Homo sapiens: one gene and its partners. The protein of the gene in region 3 interacts with the protein of the main gene of each other region in a biochemical or structural test. Each region holds a gene or a part of one and is shown on either strand. Other genes may lie near its edges. The genes, in order: PSG9, PSG7, DSCAM and PTPRT.

The links.
Region 1: the proteins of DSCAM (region 3) and PSG9 interact in a biophysical measurement, tested with the Homo sapiens proteins (one large-scale study listed by IntAct).
Region 2: the proteins of DSCAM (region 3) and PSG7 interact in a biophysical measurement, tested with the Homo sapiens proteins (one large-scale study listed by IntAct).
Region 4: the proteins of DSCAM (region 3) and PTPRT interact in a biophysical measurement, tested with the Homo sapiens proteins (one large-scale study listed by IntAct).

The regions. Positions count from the first base shown.
Region 1 is NC_000019.10:43,259,518-43,263,084, reverse strand, and holds part of PSG9 (pregnancy-specific beta-1-glycoprotein 9 isoform 1 precursor), read left to right. Parts: intron 1-946; coding exon 947-1,225; intron 1,226-3,567. UniProt on the Homo sapiens protein: Binds to the small latent transforming growth factor-beta complex, consisting of the N-terminal TGFB1 latency-associated peptide (LAP) and the mature form of TGFB1, thereby leading to the activation of TGFB1.
Region 2 is NC_000019.10:42,934,375-42,938,713, reverse strand, and holds the start of PSG7 (pregnancy-specific beta-1-glycoprotein 7 isoform 1 precursor), read left to right. Parts: upstream 1-1,506; 5' UTR 1,507-1,637; coding exon 1,638-1,701; intron 1,702-2,944; coding exon 2,945-3,310; intron 3,311-4,339.
Region 3 is NC_000021.9:40,333,137-40,336,703, reverse strand, and holds part of DSCAM (cell adhesion molecule DSCAM isoform CHD2-42 precursor), read left to right. Parts: intron 1-3,567. UniProt on the Homo sapiens protein: Cell adhesion molecule that plays a role in neuronal self-avoidance. Promotes repulsion between specific neuronal processes of either the same cell or the same subtype of cells.
Region 4 is NC_000020.11:42,101,854-42,105,420, reverse strand, and holds part of PTPRT (receptor-type tyrosine-protein phosphatase T isoform 2 precursor), read left to right. Parts: intron 1-702; coding exon 703-852; intron 853-3,123; coding exon 3,124-3,297; intron 3,298-3,567. UniProt on the Homo sapiens protein: May be involved in both signal transduction and cellular adhesion in the CNS.

The DNA of each region.
Region 1 (3,567 bases), on a different chromosome or scaffold from region 3:
TGAGAGAAAGTATCTGCAAGACTTCTTCCCAAATATTGGTCTAATATCCACCAAACGCATATGGTCCTTGAGGGCCAGACTTCCATCATCTGTTCATGTTCACCCTTTCCACCAGTCAGTTCTGCATTTGCAAACATCCACATGTATTTCTAGAAAGATCCACATGGTCCTCACCTGCCCTCTACAGGGGGAAGGGAGCATCATGGACCCAGAACAGGGAACATGGTCTTGGTCGAAAGCTATCAGCTACTGCCTGGCCCCTTCACTCTTTGTAGGTCATTCCTTGGACTCTGCTCTATCGTTAGAGGTCACTGGCTCAAGTCAGTCACTATGAGACACCTGGGAAAACTGCAAACTGCCCCACCTTGTGGCTCCACTGCCTGATGTCTTAACTGACCTCCCGGCTTGACTCTGGTCTCCCCTGTGTTATTTCTGCTGAAGTACCCAGTCCCAGACCAGGCTTTCCAATACCCAAAGGGTTTAAGGACAATGGGAAGTTCCATCACCCATCTCTAGGATGTCCTTGGCAAGGGAAGCTGCAGAGAAAACATACCTCAGGGGGCAAAGTAAGACTGAAACTAAGAGGATTCCAGCACTGCATGCTCCAAGTGAGGACCACAAGTTGGGCCAGTCAGGCAGTTGGAGACGGAGGGACTCAAAGAGGCATCAGGGGCTGTGACTGCTGGTCCTGTGTCTTTCCATGACCCAATGCTGCTGCTCAATTCACACTTAAGAAAGTCTGTGCTTCTCCCACATAAAGCAGGCAGCCTCACAATCTCTGAGCTCTCAGATTGCCATGCATCTGTCTTGTAACACACACACCTGCCATGGGCTTTTAAGGACTGGGTTGGGCTGAGAGGTGGGAAATGCCAACTCTGACTGAAAAATGCCTTTGGAGGAATCAAAGGTGCCACACAGGGCAATCTTCTCTCTGTTTTCTGCACAGTGGAGACTCCCAAGCCCTACATCTCCAGCAGCAACTTAAACCCCAGGGAGGCCATGGAGGCTGTGCGCTTAATCTGTGATCCTGAGACTCTGGACGCAAGCTACCTATGGTGGATGAATGGTCAGAGCCTCCCTGTGACTCACAGGTTGCAGCTGTCCAAAACCAACAGGACCCTCTATCTATTTGGTGTCACAAAGTATATTGCAGGACCCTATGAATGTGAAATACGGAACCCAGTGAGTGCCAGTCGCAGTGACCCAGTCACCCTGAATCTCCTCCGTGAGTATCTTCTGTTCCTCTGTGAGCCAGGCTGCCATCCCAAATACACATGGCCAGAGGCCAGGCCTCTCAGTCCCTCTCAGGTCCAAGTACAGAGACCTTTACCCCTAGACATCAAAGCTGGCCATGACTTTCTGCCCCAAGCAAACCAGAGTAGGCCTAGGCTTGATCAACAATGGGAGAAAAGAGGCTGCTGTGTCATGGGAGACTCTGGGTCCACAGCTTGTGATGGGAGAAACAGGTGAATGTCTCAGGCTCCAGATCAGTGAACACAGCAGGGATTTGGCTGGGACTTCAGTGTTGCGACTTGGCTCACAGGGTCACTGTGGCCCTTCCACAGACCAGGATTTTCCCTTCCCTCTGACAATATCGCTTGTGACATTATTCTCTTTGCTCCACATGGCCTGGATGCACCCACCATTTCTTCCTCATACATCTATTACCATACAGGGGAATTCCCCAATCTCTCCTGCCTCACAGACTCTCACCCACTGGCAGAGCATTCTTGGCTGATTGATGGGAAGTTCCAGCACTCAGCACAAGTGTTCTTTATCCCCCAAATCACTAAAACATATAGAGGGTCTATGTCTGTTTCATCCATAACTCAGCCACTGGTGGAACAAATCTCATAATCAAGAGGATCATAGTCCCTGGTAAGTGGGTCCCTGGAGCACTGGCACTATGTTTTCCAGTGAAGTCTATCTAGCTGTCAGGGAACAGCCACCTGCCCTCTGCAAAGGGAGAGGGAAAATAAAAAACCCTGGATAGGGAATATGTTTCTGCTCCAAAACCACCAGCTTTTGCCTGTCCCTTCACTCTTTCTAGATCATTCTTTAGACTATACACTAACAATGAACAATCTGAAAGGAAGTTAAGGAAAGGATTTCAATTCACATTAACATCAAAAGGAATAAAATATTTTGGAATAAGTTTAACCAAAAAGGTCAAATGATTATACCCTGAAAACTACAAAACATTGCTGAAAGAAATTAAAGATGATATCAATATATGGAAAGACATTTCATTTTCATGGATTGGAAGAATCAATATTGTTAGAAAGACAATACTACCCAATTGAGTTGCAGATTCAATGCAACCCCTACCAGAATCCCAGTAACATTTTTTGCAGAATTAGAAAACTCTGTCCTAAATCTGACCTGACAGGATCTTATTAATGACTGCCACAACACAAACACTGAGAAAAAGATGCAACCAGAAAAGGTGGAAAGTTCTGATGACAAAGAAAATAGCAATCAGCCTTTCTCACATCCCAAAGCTTTAAAAAATATATGAGTGCAGCATGGCCAGTATGGAATTGACCAAAAACTAATCATCAAGCTAGAAAAGTGGTGAGAGAAAAAAAAAGGGCAAGAATATCTTTGGCTTATCACCTCCCACTTTTGCCTACTAATCTGATGCTGAAAAGAAATGCTCACTGAAGCATTTTAGATTTTGAATCTTTCAGATTTGGGATGCTAAACCAGTAAGTATATGACAAATATTTCAGAATAAAAAAATGTCAGAAATCCAAAACACTTTTTGTCCTAAGACTTATGCATAAGAAATACTCAATCTGTGTGAACTATAGGCATCAAGCTCTACAGCAGATCTCTAGAACCTCCCCACCTTGCATAACTGAAACTGCACACCCATGAACAATTTCTGATTCTCCCCACTCCCAGCTCCTGGCAACCAGCAGTCTCTTCTCATATTCACTCTGGAATCCACTTACATGAGGTCCCTAGAGTAGTCGAACCCAGGGGATCAGAGAGTAGAATGTCCAATGAAAGAAAATATTTGCAAAACTTCTCTCCAAGTTTGTCTCATATCCATCAAACACACATGGTCCATGAGGACCAGATTTCCAGCAGTTCATTCCCACACTTTCCACCAGTCAGTTCTGCATTTGCAAATGTCCACATGTATTTCTGGAAAGATCCACATGGTCCTCCTCTGCCCTCTGCAGAAGGAGAGGAAACTTAAAGAACCCAGGACAGAGAACATGGTTCTGCTCCAAAGCCACCAGCTCTTGCCTGTCGCCTTCACTCTTTCTAGATCATTCCTTGCACTCTGCTCTATGTTTAGAGGTCACTGGTTCAAGTAAGTCATCATGAAACACCTGCAAAAAACTGCCCCACCTTGAGCCTCCACTGCCTGATGACTGAACTGACCTCCAGGCTTGACTCTGGTCTCCTCTGTGTTATTTCTGCTGAAACATCCAGTCCCAGGCCAGGCTGCTAAGTATCTTCAGGGTCTCAGGACAATGGGAAGTCCCATTATTACTCATCTCTAGAACATCCTTAGAAATGGAAGCTGCAGAGAAATCACATATAGGGGGGCAA
Region 2 (4,339 bases), on a different chromosome or scaffold from region 3:
ACCTGCTCCTTCCCTGGGCCCAGCTAAAGGCATCTCCCAGGGCAGCTCTGGTGCACGCAACGCCACACTGGGCGCTTTCCCCTCGTGAACTCCCTCCATCCTCATCAACTCTTTCTGTCACTGCTCCCTAAATGCCCACCCCTGCTCCATCTGTCCTGTTCTCTGGGGCTTCGCAGGTGAAGCCTAGAGCTGACACAGATCAGCGGCTGCCTAAGGGCCCACAGCCTCCCCGGGAATCAGCCAGGCACCCTGTGACCTGCCTGCCCGCTGAACCCCTGGTGGCTTAGATCGTGTGTGATGGTCACACACAGGCACCATCTGGGATGTGGCCACCTACCCCCAGCTGTCCCTTGGGAAGACAGTCCTCTCCTGTGTGCTTGCGGGGAAAGGGGGGTGTTATTGCTCTTTGCACACAGAACACAACCCACCCCCACCCACCATCTCAGGCGTGAGCAACGTCCCTGCAGACAGGATCTCTGGCCACTGCCTGTTCCTCCTCTACACACAGCAGCTTGGCCAGGTCAAAACCCTCAGGACAGACCCCTGGGTATGTCGGCACATGGAGGGCTGAGCCCATCATGGCCACGGAGTAAGTCAGGATGAATCTCTCCAGCTCTGAACCCCTGCTCTGTCCCAGGCTCCCCCTCCTGTGTCTCAACGAGCCATGTCCCGCGGGTTTCCTGGGTAACTCTTCACTGCCACCTGCACCACCACAGGGAAGGTGTGGTGACCACAGGACAATCAGCTGGGCACATAAGAGAGGACATCAAAGATGGTCAGGAAGAACACGAGAAATCCTGAGCTCCAGCTCAGCCGCCAGACCCCAGGGAGCCAAAGAGTGACCGAGAACTCTCTCTTTGACTATGGGACTTACAGCCCCCACTGAGCAATCAGCACAGGCCTCTCCTCCCAAGAGGCATGAGAGATTCACCCTGCACACCTCTAGGAAGGACAGTTTCCTCTGGGACACCCAGGTCCTGAACGTCCATCCTTGGAAGCTGCAGCCAAGCTAGATACGATTAGAGAAAGGAAGGGTCCCTCTCACCAGGAAACACACAGTTCACACACAGCACAATGGGGCATCACTGTGACAGGGACCTGGTGCAGCTTCAGCCTCCTGCACTGCAGGGGAGAGCCAGATGGGGATGAAAGAGGCCAAAGGGCGTGAATGTGCACCCCTAACCAGAGCCATGCGGAGAGCAGGAGGCTGAGGCCCAGGACTGCGCTTGCCCAACCTGCAGGGTATGTGTGTGACTCTGTGGGTCTGTGTGTGTCTCTTCTGTGTGTGTGTGTGTGTGTGTATGTGTGTGTGTGTGTGTGTGTGTCTGCACAAAGTGTGTGTTGAGGTTTGGTGAAAGAATCACTGCTGAAAAAGGCAGAGGGCTCCACAATTCCCAGGGACCTGAAACACAGACAAAAGGAAAAACAGAAGGAGGGACAAGGAGGCAGAACTGAGAGAGGAGGGGACAGAGAGGTGTCCTGGGCCTGACCCCACCCATGAGCTTGAGAAGTGCTCCTGCCCCGGGAAGAGGCTCAGTGCAGAAGGAGGAAGGACAGCACAGCTGACAGCCGTGCTCAGGAAGATTCTGGATCCTAGGCTCATCTCCACAGAGGAGAACACGCAGGGAGCAGAGACCATGGGGCCCCTCTCAGCCCCTCCCTGCACACAGCATATAACCTGGAAAGGGCTCCTGCTCACAGGTGAGGAGAGAACTTCCTGGGAGAGGACAGGAAAAGGAAGCAGAGTGACTGGATGGGGTCTCCTAGAGAGGATGGGGTTCTAAAAAATAAAAGAAGCCAGCACTTTGGGAGGCTGAGGTGGGTGGATCAAGAGATCAGGAGTTCAAGATCAGTCTGGCCAACACAATGTAGCCCTGTCTGTACTAAAAATACAAAAAATTAACCAGGTATGGTGGTGTGCTCCTGTAATCCTAGCTACTCAGGAGGCTGAGGCAGGAGAATCACATGAACCCGGGAGGCAGAAGTTGCAGCTAGCCGAGATAGCACCACTGCATGCCAGCCTGGGTGACAGTATGAGACTCCGTCCCAAAAGAAAAAAAGGAAAAAAGAAAAAAAAGGAAAGAAGGCTCTGTTGGAGCCTGGATAGGGGAAAATACACCAGAGAGGGACAGGGGTCAAAATAGGAAAGTCACATTGAACCGGAATTGGTAAGAGGTAGGAAAATCTTAAGTGTTCTGTTTTTCTGATTAATCCTCAGGGGTCACCACATTTTGAAAAATGAAAATAATAACTATATCAGATGACACTTGAAATAAAAATATAAGCAGGGCATGAAACACTGTCCTCAGCAAAAAACCTCAACAATTGGGAGGAAAAAAAACACCCAGGGCATGGAGGCCCCTGAGAACTCTCACATCTACAGGAGTCTGCAGCCTGTTCCAGGCACTGGGGTGCGACCAAGATCACAAAAGTCCCTGTCCTCACGGAGCTCATGCTGTCATGGGGAGGAAGACAGACATGCAAAGAGATCTAGAATGTGAGATCAGGTGTTGACAAGAACCCTGGAGGGAGCAGAGCAGGGAAAGGTCAAAAAGGAAAGACCCAGGTTCTCTGAAGGAGGTGTCAGGAAAGAAGTCTAAGGATGCCCTGATGTGAGCAGAACCTGAGGGCAGTGTGGAGGGGGCCGTGCGGACCCCTGGGGAAGAGGATTCCAAACAGAAAAATGCCAAAGTCAGGAGTGTTGAAGGAATGGGGGTCATGCTGCTGACCTTGACCTAGTAGGACAGTAGGACACACACAGAAACACACATGCCCCTTTTATATGTGTGTGTGTGTGTTTGTGTGTGTGTGTGTGTGTGTGTGTGTGTGTGTGTGTGTGTCTTCAAGGCTGAGGATTGAAGAGACCTTCTCAGGACCCAGGGGCCCATCTTTTCAACCCAACACATAGGTCTCAATATTGACTGATGCTCTCTCCACCTCCTAGCATCACTTTTAAACTTCTGGAACCCGCCCACCACAGCCCAAGTCACGATTGAAGCCCAGCCACCAAAAGTTTCCGAGGGGAAGGATGTTCTTCTACTTGTCCACAATTTGCCCCAGAATCTTACTGGCTACATCTGGTACAAAGGACAAATCAGGGACCTCTACCATTATGTTACATCATATATAGTAGACGGTCAAATAATTAAATATGGGCCTGCATACAGTGGACGAGAAACAGTATATTCCAATGCATCCCTGCTGATCCAGAATGTCACCCAGGAAGACACAGGATCCTACACTTTACACATCATAAAGCGAGGTGATGGGACTGGAGGAGTAACTGGACGTTTCACCTTCACCTTATACCGTGAGTGATTCCACATGGTCCCTGGGTGTTGGGGGGCAGGGGTCATTTCTACTTCACACACACAGAATTGTCAGGCCTGGACTGTGCCTGTGTCCCTCTCTGCATTATGTCCCATGCTGGGGTTTGGGCATTTATTGCAGGAAACACACAGAGGAGACAAATTTCAACAGATCAGAATTCCTTTCTCACATCCAGACCCTGCAGAAACTTGCTGCAGAGGAAGGACAGTCTGATGGGGGGACTCAGCAGGAGGAGATCAGTCTCAGCCAAGCACCTCATGCCCTCTTCATAAATTTGACCCTGAGAAAGACCCTGGAAAACTGAGTAGGGCTTGGCCTGAGGGGCCCCCTGAGACCCTCAGAGAAGCTCAGCCCTAGAAGCCTCAACCCCAGACCCCTGTCCCTAAATCCTTGCTCCAGATAAAGCTGAGGAGCCTGTGCCAGGACTGGGTTATGGTTTCTTGGGCAGGGCTTACTGGGACTAAGAATTTTCCAGCTGTCTGAGGACTGTGTCTCCTGCAGCTGTTCACCAGCCAGGGCTCAGCCCTCAGAGCCTCATCTGGGCAAGGACAGAGCTTTCTTCACCTGACACTCAGAGTGGAGAGGACAGAAAGACAAGCTTTGTAGGCCATCAGCCAACTGCCTTAGGAGGCCTAGGACACTCCATAGAAAGTCTAATATCCCCAGAAGCAGAAACAGAAGAGAGAAGATGTACCAGGTAGCAGCTTGTCCACAGGGATCTGACGTAAAGGTGCTTTCTCATGGAAGCAAATTAATAATAAATGCTGTTTGGTGAACATTTCCACAGTGCTACGCATTAGGTCAGGTGACTGTGAATAATTTAACATTTATTCACAGATAGCATGAAAAGCCACAGTCCATTTGCCATTTAGCTTATTTGATTGAGAGAAAACTGAGTCACAGGAAAGCACAGTCACTGAGCCAGAGTCACACAAACACAAAGGGGAGATCAGGGTCACATGAGGTCTGTCTGCAGCCACAGGCCCATCCTCTCCTCCACCAGAAGTGA
Region 3 (3,567 bases):
TGCAGAGAATTAAAACATGGCAGTATCTTAATGGTTCATTGCAATAGTCAGATGCCATATCAACACATTTTCTGTACTCTGTCATCTTAAAATTCATTGGTCTATCATACCCTTGGAAGGAATGTTTTACCCACACATGATTTTGTAACATAAAAAGTTGATCATTTGGAAATGATTGGTTCACTGTGTTACACAGATCTTCCAAATGTTGATACAATTTGTTATACAATATCAAAATATCACAACTACTAACATTACCATGATCTCATCAGAAAGTCTTCAAGTAAACTGTCAAGTTCATGCTGATGGATGCAAGTTTTCTAAAATTCTATTCTTTCTTGAAAGATTCAATTTTATTATTTATAATAAACACCATCAATTGTAATTGTAGGAGTGATGGGCTCATTTATCTGTAAGAAATTGTTTGACAAATAGAAAAGACCGCATAACCATCGTTTTTAGGTAGCCATTCTTTTAAGAAAGAAATGGAATTCCATGAAGAAAAGCAGCTGGTCGAATTTGCAACTCAAGCAAGCACAGACATACTCTGCTTGAAAATAGCCGTGCTGCTCAGGAGGTGGAGGAAACACTGTGCCTTCTTCCCATTTTATTACACAGGACATAGAACATTAAAAATAACGTGAGCTTTAGGGTAAAGATGTAATAAAACTGTTATGTTTCCTGCTTCGTCAAGTGTCTGTAAGTGAATCTGGCATTTTTAAAAAACCAACTCACAGTATGCATCGGTAAACAGTACAATGAATAGTCATCCTGTTAGTGTCCCTGCTGGGATTCATGGTAACGCCCAGCAGTCTCACCCACCATGGCTTTTGCTCCAACAGTGCAAATGTCAACACCATGAGAAAGGCAAACAGCACCTCAGCATTGTCATGAAAACGATTTTCTTCTTACAGATCACCTAAAATTGTCTCAGGGATCCCTACAGGTCTGTGAGCTACATTTTGAAAACATCTAATACAGTGCTAAAATTTTAGTTTATTTTTAATGTTTGACCATTACAAATGAGGCATCAAATGAACTTCTTTATGCATTGGCCTTTGTCTGATTTTAAGATTATTTCTTTCGAGAAAAATTTCCAGAAGTATGACCATTGGATAAATAGGTATAATACTTTAATGTAATTTTTAGGAGACATAGATTTAAACGAAAGCCCTTTGAATCATTAACATTTATTCTTTAAATTTGCCAGATCAGTATAAATGAATGTATTCATCTTAATCCTTTTGAAGTGACAGAAACCAACTCAAACTAGCTTATGGCCAAAAGAATAATTTATTGTCTCTTATAAACAATATATTTATGATTTTAGGAAATAATTCTATTGAATAATTTTTTCTTCAGGAGCTTCTTTTCTTCTGAATACTTATCATATAGTATAAAACTTGTCAGCTCCTTTGCAAGTACTTGCAAACAAAAGAAGGAAAATATTATTTTATGTGGTATTTTATTGCCTGGAGAGAAATGGCAGTTGTTGGGATTTGGGGCTTGCCAAATTTTTCAGAATAGTCGGGAAAAGCTGCCTGGAAAAAGTGAGATTTTGAGCAAAGATGTGAAGGGGTTCAAGACAGCTCATGGATACCTGGGGAAGGGACATCCTAGGTAAAGGGAAGAGATACAACCACGGTGTCTAGAGTTTGCCTGGCAAGCTTGAGGAATAACAGAGAGGCTGGTGTGGTGGGAGCCAAGTGAACAAGAAAACACTAAAAGGCCCTGAGTCAGAAGGAGCAGAACCTTTTCACGGGGGACTTACTAGATCAGGACTTCGGTTTTCAGGACGTGGGGTTTTCTGCTGAGTGAGATGGGGGCTTTATTGGATGACTTTAAACAGAAAAGTCACATGGCCAGACTAAGGTTTTAAAAGGATGCTTTTAGCCAGGCAAGGTGGGACGAGCCCGTAGTCCCAGATACTCCAGAGGCTGAGACAGGAGAATACTTCCAGTCTAGTAGTTTGAGGTTGTGGTTGTGGTGCACTATATTTGCACCTGTGAATAGACACTGCACTCCAGCCTGGGCAACATAGTGAGACCCCATCTCTAAAAAGAAGAAGGACGCATCTGATTCCTGTGCTGAGAATGGTCTATTCGGGGAAAGGGGGCAAGTAGAATGACCTGTTGGAAAGTGAATCCAGGTGAGAGATGATGGTGGCTTGGACCAGGGGGAGAGCAGAGGAGGTTGGGGGTAGAAGACAGACTCCGGATCTATTTCGAAGGTCTATTCAGTCGGTTTTCCTAGTGGTTGGATACAGGTGTGAGGAAAATAAAGACATCAAGGATCAGGTCAGGCTTCTGGCCTGAATATCAGGAAGAATGGCATTGCTTTCTACTGAGTCAGCAGAAGATGCAGTGGAGCCGTTTGAGGAAGGCGATTAGGAGTCTAGTTATCGATGTGTTGAGGTTGAAATACACACTAAACAAAGAAGTGGATGCTGTCAGTAGGAAATTAGATATGGGAGAGTAGAGTTCAGGAATCCAGGCTGCAGATCTGGTGACATCAGTGAATAGATGATGTTCAACACCAAGGCCTGAACAGGACCCTCAGGGGACTTTGTGCACTACACCGCAGATTTTAACTTCATATGTACAGGCTTCCCCAGCCCCCAGTCAGGCTCACATTAGAACCCTTCACCAAATATCTGAAAATAAAGTCTGACAAAAATTCAAACAAGGACTGTTTGAAATGTAAGTTTACCTATTTTTAGATTTCCCAGATTGGCACAGATCCATGTATTGACTATGACCCCATTGGTTGCAAGGTGCGAGAACCCAAATTACCTTTGCTTAAGCAGCCAGGTGCAGAGGCTCACTGCTGTAATCCCAGCTACTTGGGAGGCCTAGGTGTGATGTGGTACGCACCTGTAGCTCCAGCTACTCCGGAGACTCAGGCAGAAGAATGGCTTGAGGCCAGGAGTGCAAGACTGTGGTGAACTACTTCCAAAACACAGTAACAGTTTTACACCATTCGCAATCTTAGCCTTTACTCAGAACTTAGAAGGGTCTTAAATAAAATGACTTCTGAACATTTAAGTTTACATTTTAAAATATTTTAACCTCAGCACTTTGGGAGACCGAGGCAGGAGGATCACTTGAGGCCAGGAGTTTGAGATCAGCCTGGCCAACGTGGCAAAACCTGGTCTCTACTAAAAATACAAAAATTAGCCAGGCATGGTGGCACACACCTGTAATCCTAGATACTCAGGTGGCTGAGGAGGGAGGATGGCTTGAACCCAGGAGGCGGAGTTTGCAGTGAGCCAAGATAGCACCACTGCACTCCATCCTGGGTGACAGGGAAGACTCTGTCTCAATCAATCAATCGATCGATCAGTAAAATGTTTTTAAATGAAATATTAATATATAAAGTAAATTATACTCCAATGGTCAGGATTGTAGTTTATCAAGGCTTTTTAAAAATTAACCTTTACTATTTTCAGTTACCAAGTATTAGGGGAGGGAGATAAGAAATTAGCTAAATTTTAGGAAAAGACTTAGAATTTTGGCTTTCCCTGTGGATTAGGATTGAAAGAGACTTTCTTATTTTGTTCATGTAAAT
Region 4 (3,567 bases), on a different chromosome or scaffold from region 3:
CAGCAGGTACAAAGAATTGAGATAGGAGAAGATATGACACGTTTTGGGAGCAGATCGTGAGACAAAGATTTGCCGGCAAATAATTTGCTTGGAAGGTAATCCCAAGACACAGTGGCTGGTGAATGGGAAAGTGAGGCAGAGCAGGGAAGGAAACAAACAAAGGCTACTTTAACAAGTTGTTAAACACTGTAGACAACTGGAACCCAATTCTGCTGGCGAACTCTGAGACACATGCGTGTCCAAGTGATTCCACCTAAAGGGAGAGATTTCTTAGATTTCTATCCTCAACTCTCCATCTGTCATTGCTTGAGGGTTCCTTTCCACACAGCCCAAGTATCCCCTCTGCCTTCAGCAGACAATCACAGGTGTTTGCAGCAAGCAGCCTTCCTCAGGTAAAGGTGAAAGCTGAGGGGACATGGGCTGGACACCAAGAGCGCCTGCTGACAGCATGTCTAGAAGTTTCTCATTTTATCATGACTATGCTATTACATCTTCTATCAGAAACAAGACCCACCATAGCTCAGGTGATCATTAGGAAACATGGAAATTTGGCCCTTTGGGTTACAGTATAAAAAGTAAGGATCCTGTAATATATTGATAAATCATGTCTATTCTTCATAGCCACAACACTAAATGTGGACAGCTAATTCCCAGGCCACTGTTCTTACCTGGCACCCCATTCCCTCTCTTCTGACTTTGCAGGAGCAATATGTGTTTGTGCACGATGCCATCCTGGAAGCGTGCCTCTGTGGCAACACTGCCATCCCTGTGTGTGAGTTCCGTTCTCTCTACTACAATATCAGCAGGCTGGACCCCCAGACAAACTCCAGCCAAATCAAAGATGAATTTCAGGTATGAGCAAATCCCAGGCTCGGTGACCATCTTAGTCAGTTTGGGTTGTTATAACAAATTTCCATAGATTGGGTGGTTTAAATGACAGACACTTATTCATTACATTTCTGGAGGCTGAGAAGCCCAGCATCAAGCTTCCAGTAAATCCAGTGTCTGGGGAGGGCTCACTTCCTGACTTGCAGATAGCCGTCTTCTCGTTGCATATTCACGTGGTGGAAAGTAGAAGCAGCAAGCTCTCACATTTCTTCTTTTTTTTACTTTTTATAGAGATAGGATCTCACTATGTTGCCCAGGATGGTCTTCAACTCCTGGGCTCAAGGAATCCTCCCACCTTGGTCTCCCAAATTGCTGGGATTACAGGCAGGAGCCACCACACCTGGCCCTACATGTTTCTTCTTATAAGAGCACTAATCCCGTTCATGAGGGTTCTATGCTCATGATCGAAACGTCTTCCAAAGTCCCAACCTCCTAATACCATCACATTGGGGGCTAAGATTACGACATGGATTTTGGGAGGGATGAAAACATTTAGTCCGTAACAGTAACCCAACCAACTTCAGTGGCTATGTGCACATTTGTGGGGTTTTCTTTGGGACAACTGATCTATGCACTTTCAGTGTCTGCTTCTCTAGGAAGCTGCAGAATCTATTCCAGAACACAAAATGCACAGCCATGAGCAACTACACACTCACTCAGGGATTGCTGGTACTTGTCTTTAACTGTGAATATGTTTTTTAACTGAGGTCTTATTCAGTTCTAGTCCAAGTTGTGAATGGAGACAAATTTATACAAACAGGTGTGAATTTCATGCTCCTTCATCCCTGGAGGGACTCAGGTCCTCTCAGTAATTTTTCAGTAGACTCTTACTGCTAAAAGTGTGGTCTGCAGCCTGACCAACATGGTGAAACCCTGTCTCTACTAAAAATACAAAACAAGTGAGCCAGGCATGGTGGCATGCACCTGTAATCCCAGCTACTCAGGAGGCTGAGGCAGGAGACTTGCTTGAACCTGGGAGGCGGAGGTTGCAGTGAGCCGAGATTGTGCCACTGCACTCCAGCCTGGGCAACAGAGTGAGACTCCATCTCAAAAACATAAAAAATAAAATAAATAAAATTTTAAAACCTGCAGTCTGGAGACCAGCAGCATTGGCTTCACCTGGGAACTTGTTATAAATGCAGAATCTCGGACCTGGCCCAGACATAGTGAATGAGAGCCTGCAAGTTAACAAGATCTCTGAGTGATTTGTATGCATGTTAAACTTTGAGAAGTACTGTCCTAGAACATAGCTCAGGTATACCAGATCCACACCTGGAAGCCCATGCGGTCAGAGCTGTGGCAACATTGATTGGTCTAGGGAGCCTGGACATGAATCACTAAGTAAGATAAAGCCAGAGTCCAGCCCTTTATCCCAAGACCAGTGTCAGAATTACACCTGGGCAACAGGAGCTGAGAACCAGGTATGAGAAAGCAAGGAAGCTCCAGGTCTTGCTTCAAGTCAGTGGGCAAATGCCAGGCCCATTGTTCCACGGGCAGATATCCCAGGCAGGCCAATACCTTAGCAATCCCTAAAACAAATAGCCATTATTGATCTGAAGTAGAGACAGAGAGCTGAATGAGGGAAGGATGGAGGGTACAGAACACTGGTCATTGCACGTAACATCTAGTCCATTGGCTAGAGCAGTTCAGCTCTGGCCTCAAACTTGCAAGATGTACTCGGCAAAGTCCAAACACAGCAATTTCCCAGACCTGTTAGGGTTTGCCCCTCGGAGGTCTCTCATCTATCCTGAGCAGGTCATCTAGGCATCCTTCCATACTCAGACAGCTTTCTCTCTGAGAAGAGGGCTGGTAAATCATTTCCCCCATTCCATGACAACGCAAGTGATGTTTAGCCCTCAGTAGGGATTCCCTACCCCCACCCCTCTGTATGCCCTCCTGGCTGGCCCACCCTTTAAAGCAGCACTGGCTGAGCTGAACGACTTAGTTCATCTGGTTGGCAGGTACTATGAGGCTGTGTCTGAGCCTGTGTGTGGATGCGCTGCTTCTGCAGCCTTGGCGTTTTGAAGGTGTCACACAGCTCACACACCCTATAGCAGGGAGCAGGAGAGGACAGAACATCACCGTGGAAGAGAAATGGGTCCCGGGAAAGGGAGAGTGGGGCTGCGCTTAGAGGGTGGAAATAGGCGAGTTAGGCTGAGTTGGAACATTACTGTCTCTTTTGCTCAGGGGCAGCCAAATGAGCAGGGCCTATCTATTCACCTTTGTGCCCCACAGACCCTCAACATTGTGACACCCCGTGTGCGGCCCGAGGACTGCAGCATTGGGCTCCTGCCCCGGAACCATGATAAGAATCGAAGTATGGACGTGCTGCCTCTGGACCGCTGCCTGCCCTTCCTTATCTCAGTGGACGGAGAATCCAGCAATTACATCAACGCAGCACTGATGGATGTAAGCCGAGCCCGGGCAGAAAGCTCCTAGCTGGCATTCTAGGGCAAATATTCTTCCTGAGGTGGAGGTGGCTGGACCTCAGGGCCCTGACCCCACCAGCCAGCCCCCCCTGCTTCTGATCTACTAGTCCCAAGGACCTTTGTTCCCCTGCAGGCTCTGGTCCAAACCTAGACACAAGGTGGGCTCTTGGCTCCTTTTCTCATACAAAGAGCCTGGAAAGAATAGACCAGAAGCGTAAGGTGGCTCCCGTGTCACCATGGCAAGTCTACA